Regions from separate parts of the Homo sapiens genome. Here region 1 is linked to region 2. The links come from fine-mapping of genetic effects on gene expression. Tissue or cell type: caudate. Region 2 holds a variant in brackets; the other region holds the start of a gene. All regions are shown on one strand. Distances are between the middles of the regions.

What was found. PIP is the estimated chance that this variant, and not a neighbour inherited with it, causes the effect.
Region 1: PRSS23 starts here. The variant in region 2 is fine-mapped to the expression of PRSS23 in caudate (GTEx, PIP above 0.99).

What each region holds. Positions count from the first base shown.
Region 1 is chr11:86,799,383-86,802,065 of GRCh38, forward strand. PRSS23 (serine protease 23) reads left to right here and starts at 1,160. Exons shown (of 2, transcript NM_007173.6): 1 at 1,160-1,269.
Region 2 is chr11:86,515,759-86,518,441 of GRCh38, forward strand. The region is part of intron 4 of ME3 (malic enzyme 3); the gene reads right to left. Among named protein-coding and RNA genes, the nearest start is that of CCDC81, 140 kb to the left of the region's middle. The variant G/C (reference allele first, on the strand shown) is at 1,188.

The sequences.
Region 1 (2,683 bases), 280 kb after region 2:
AGTAGACTTTGATAGGAGAAAGGAAAGCTAAGTAGCTTGATAGAAAGCATGGCTCAGTGCAAAATCTTGTCCTACCATTCAGTAGCTGTGTGATTTTGGGCAAGTCATAAAACCTCTCCAAACCTCCTGTTCCTTATAAAAATTAGTGTAATCTCTGCACCTTCTTCACCACAATGGCCTATATGTAAAGCTCTTGACCGAAAACGCTCAATACACAGTAATCTATACTAAATAGGAAGGCTCTAACACTAGGACCTTAAATGGCAAGGTCTCCAGCCTGGTTAGGAGAGGACTCCCCGCACACCCCCCTACCCTGGCCCCCAACCACCACCACCAAGATAACGACCGCTTGGAGTGATTCAGGGAAGTAGGCCCACTGGACAAGGAGGTGGCTCCACCAGCTGGTGCCCCGATGAAGAACTGAGGCCAGTGGGCTCCCCAGCCACCGCCGCTCAGAAGCTGCCAAGCACCCCCGGTGCTTTGGGCCCCACGCACAGCACTGAGTGCTGTAAGGAAATGCAAAGCATTGGTGGCCCTGCCATGGGAATACAGGTTTCTGTTCTTTGGAGGCACCGGAGAAACTAGGAGTTCGGTCAGCACCTTAAGGCGCTAAAAGTGTACGTGGGGGTGGGGCGCACACAGGTTCTGAACCAATTCTTCAAATTTGCCCAGGGCTCCCCATACACCAGGTGTGGCCCGCGTCCCTAGTTCTAGGCTGTTGGGGGAGGGGTCGCCTTTTGTAGGGGACCTGGTCTTTTTGCGAGCTGGCAGCGTGCTCCCAGCAGCGAAGGCCGTAGTCTCGCTCAGGAGGCCGCGCGCCAGACCCGGGGATGCGCGGTGTTCAAAGGGTGACGGCGCGCGGGTCCCGGGCAGGAGAGCCCGCCAGAGCCGGTGCTGCCTGGCGCCGAGAGGCCCGGACTGGCGACTGCTGCCGCGCCACCGGGGCCCACCTGCGCAGGGACGCTCGGCCTCAGGCCCTCTGGGCTGCTCCACCCTGCTCCGGCCGCAGGCGAGCGGCGAGGGGAGGGGGGCACGGTTTATGTGCAGTGGGGCGGGCGGCGTCCGCGCGGCTTCCCCGAGGCCGGAGGCGGGGCGGGCGGGCCTCGGGTGGCGCGGGGGGCGGACCCGCCAGCTGCCTGCGCTGCTCGCCAGCTTGCTCGCACTCGGCTGTGCGGCGGGGCAGGCATGGGAGCCGCGCGCTCTCTCCCGGCGCCCACACCTGTCTGAGCGGCGCAGCGAGCCGCGGCCCGGGCGGGCTGCTCGGCGCGGGTGAGTGCGGGCACCGACTGGGGCATCCGCCCGGGCGCGGGAGAGGCGAGGCGCCGGGAGGAGCGGGACAAAGGGCCGGGTATGCGCGGGGTAGGGTAACTGCGGGCTGCCGGAGGCACCGCAGGACTTCGCCAGGGCAGTCCTCGGGGTTCCAGGACACGGGCTGGGGGCCTGAAGGAGCTCTGGGGAGACGGCGGGGGCTGCAGGTCATTTGGATTCATGCAGTGTCACCCATGAAACGGATGGGGAAAGAAGATCCTGCTGTCTTGGGTGCAGGATGTTGGTTGGGAAGCAGAGAGAGCCGGCTCTCGGCAAGCTGTCCTTCGGCGGGGGCGATGGCTACACCCCCATGCACCCCCCCAACACACCACCACCACTACTTCTTTTCCTTGAGTTTTGCATATACCGGATTCCATCAAGTTCTGAATATTAAGTTTTAACCCTGGGCATGTGATTGTGAACACACCTAAGCAAGCAAGAGAAGTGCAAAAGTGCAGCAAATACAGGCTGGGAAATAGAATCTTTTCTCCGGAGTGGTTGTCCGTGTGCGTTCCGGGGGTGCTAACCCTAGACACTACAGTCTGAACTAACAACAGTTGTTGTAAGCAAATAGTTCTTCTGCCTGTAGGCATTCATCACGAGTTAACTTTTAAATAAAAGTTTTAAAGTTTTAAAAGGAGCGGGAGAAGACTTGTTCAGATGAAGGAACACCACCACTCCTCTCCAGAATACAAATTAGGTTTGCTTTCCAGCACCTCAGGAGAAAGCAGCTGATAAAAATCCTGTTTGTTTTACTGCCCACTGGGTGACACCAGTAAGAATTAAGCAGCTCAGTGTAGGTATTGGAATAGGGCTTGCTTCTCTCAGCTCCTGAAACTAAATTTGAGGGCTCCCTGTGCACTCCTTAGGAACAGGTAGGCCAGTGCCAGAATCCTCATCACATGGTCATGTGAGAAAGAATTGAATTTATAGATGAGGTCAGCTGTGGTCAAAAGCCCTATGTCAAAGTAGTATCAGGATATTTATTGCATGTTGTTTCAAGATCCTACTTGTGCATGCGAGTATTTGTGACAGGTTTATAACCGTGCCTACCATGAAGTCTGTCAGGAGTGGATTGGAGGTGAAGTGGGGAGAAGGAACTTAGAAAATGCCCCCAGAAGCCACTATGTTTATTTGTGAAAGTGTTTGCACCCCATCTGCGTACGAAAAGGTTGTTTCACTTGCAGTTTTCCTAGTTAAATAAAGTCAAGCGGTAACTTGTCCTTTCCTGTGCCTGAACTGGGAAGGAAGCCTTTTTCCAAGGTGCCTAATATGGATCTCATTTTTGTAACACTGACGACTTATTCAGCTGGATGGTTAACATGGATGCATTTTCTGGTTGTAGCATAAGTGTCCATTAATGCATCTGAGAACA
Region 2 (2,683 bases):
ACAGCTGGGTCTGTTTCAATCTTCTCTCCTTGAGAATGAGTCAAAACCCCTTTGACAGCTAATGTGACATGTTTAAAGTGGTATTATCCTGCTCTGAGGCACAATGGGAGGCAGGAAGGTGGGAAAACACAGGAAGCCGCAGGCCAGGCTCTGCAGAGGTGCAGAAACATTTCCAGCTTTTGAGCAAATTATAGGCTGCCCGGGGATCCCAAGGCACTAAACATCCTGCAGTGAGTTACTGCAATCTGAACACTCATCAAGGCTAATGACTCCTCTGAGTCATTAGAATGCAACTTCTTTTGCTACTCCTAGAGCTGAGAACATGGGCATCTGGAATAGAAGCAGTCATGGAAATCTTGCTTTTAATAGCCATTAACTGGAACAGGACAAAAACAAAAATAATTTTAGCTACTGATTACTTCTCCCAAGTTTTTCCTGTTTACTTCAGGGAATCAATTTTGGAACTTGAGGGATGGAAAAATATATGGTGGATATGGCATGCTACCTACCTATGGAATCCAGGGTTTAAACAAATAGATGTCTTGCTTTACATAAAATACAGTTTATTCCTGAAAAGTTGTGAGTAAATAAAATCTCTCTCTCTCTCTCTCTTTGTGTGTGTGTGTATATATATATATATGTTTTGAGAGATGGAGTCTCACTCTGTCACCCAGGCTGGAGTACAGTGGCATGATCTCTGCTCACTGCAACCTCTGCCTCCCAGATTCAAGTGATTCTCCTGCCTCAGCTCCCCAAGTAGCTGGGACTACAGGCATGTGCCACTATGCCCAGCTAATTTTTTGTATTTTTAGTAGAGATGGGATTTCACTATATGTTGGCCAGGCTGGTCTTGAACTCCTGACCTCAAGTGATCCACCCACCTCAGCCTCCCAAAGTGCTGGGATTACAGGCATGAGCCACCGTGCCTGGCCTAATATCTATATCTAAAATTATATTGTATGTGTACTCAGGAGGTTGCTGTTTAAAGGGAAGCTACAGGGAATTGCTCAGGAACATACATCACTGTCCCCTGATTCATGGCTTTCACATTTGGACTTTCCTACTTTCATTTCCAAAAAAGACCACAGGTTCTCTCTTAGCTAGTGCTTGGTCATCAGGGCCCACTGACCAAATGAGTGGCCAGAGAAGGGGCATGGCTTCTGCTGCATGGAGCTTTGGGTTAAGTA[G/C]GCAGAGAGGGAAGGGAATGGTCATTTAACAAAAATTGCACGGAGTACCTGATCTATTCCTTCAAATACTTATTTCATTTGGTCTGAAAGGCATATTTGTTATGGGCTGTTCATCCTGGAACAGGGTTAAAACTTCTTTCTGTCCTTCGTGGAAGCAATTCATTCTGTTCTGTAAATATATTCTGTTCTCTCTTGCAAGCACAAGGCAGGCTGCCCTTCCATGATTTGTTGAAATAAAGCACAGCCCGGTGACCTGCTTTGGCCAATAAAATGCAACATGGCACCTCTGGGTGGGAGTGTTTCAGAGTCAGTGTGATTTACCATCTTCTCTTTTTCTTTTTGCCACATAACCTGTAGAGTTCCAGATAAGACTACTTCATTAGCCTGCATCCAGTGTGAGGGTGACATAGAGCACAGTCCCTAGATGTGGGGGTCAGAGACACATGGTGCAGAGCACAGAATAAACTGTGCTTTAGGCATTGAGATTTTAGGGTTGTTTGTTCCTCAGCATAATATGGCTAAGAAACATTTTGTTTGTTCAATAAAGATGTCCAGAGATGCTCAGTTCCAATTTAATCAGAGCTCCAACCTGTCGACATGTTGGAGCTCTGATTAAAGTAGAAGTGAGGGAACCCCCTTTTTGAGGGACTTTGCACTGCTTTTCATCTCAGCATCCACTGTTCTTTCAACAGACCTCTGGCAATGAGAGCAAAGGAAAAGAATTCCTTGTGGGAAATGATGCTATGACACTGGGAGGTAGTAATTGATATTTAGGAAATTATATCTCTGATGCATATCTCCTTCCACTAGACTCATGTTCCCTGAGGGCAGGATGACATTTGTTCCCAGGGCCTAGCGTAGCACCAGGCACATGGCAGGTACTCTATAAGTGATGTATGTGTTAGGTATGGTAAGTTGTTCAGAATATGGGTGCTGGAAGGAGGCAGAGCTGGGCCTTTATTTTGACAGTTGTAAACTAGGCATATAATAATGTTTACTTCAAAGTATTTCTATGAAGATTAAATAAAAGAATATATATCAGGAACATGACCTAGGGCTTGGCATGTGGTAAATTCTCCAAAAGCGGTAGCTGATATTGGTTACTTATGGTAGAGAGTGGAAAAACACCCAAACCTTTTCTGAGTGAGAAAAATTTCCAGCCATTTGAGTTATATCCCTCAGGAAAATATGTTGAAATTTGAAGTTGTGAAGGCTGTCCCATCCTCAAATATGCCATCTCGTTAATTGATTATTTAGAGTTGAAAACACTTGGAGAAATTGTAGTTTCAGAAAGGGAGAGCTGACCTGTCTTTTCCTGCATGTAGCCTATGATAAAGATTCCTCTGGGAGGGGTAACCTCTCCATACCAGGTGAGAAAATGCCCTTATCATGAGAGACTTGGAAATGGAGGCTGCGATCGACTTGAATAAACATACTTAACAAAGTAACGCTTATCATCGGCCACCTGTTTTACATTCCCCATATATCTTCCAGTG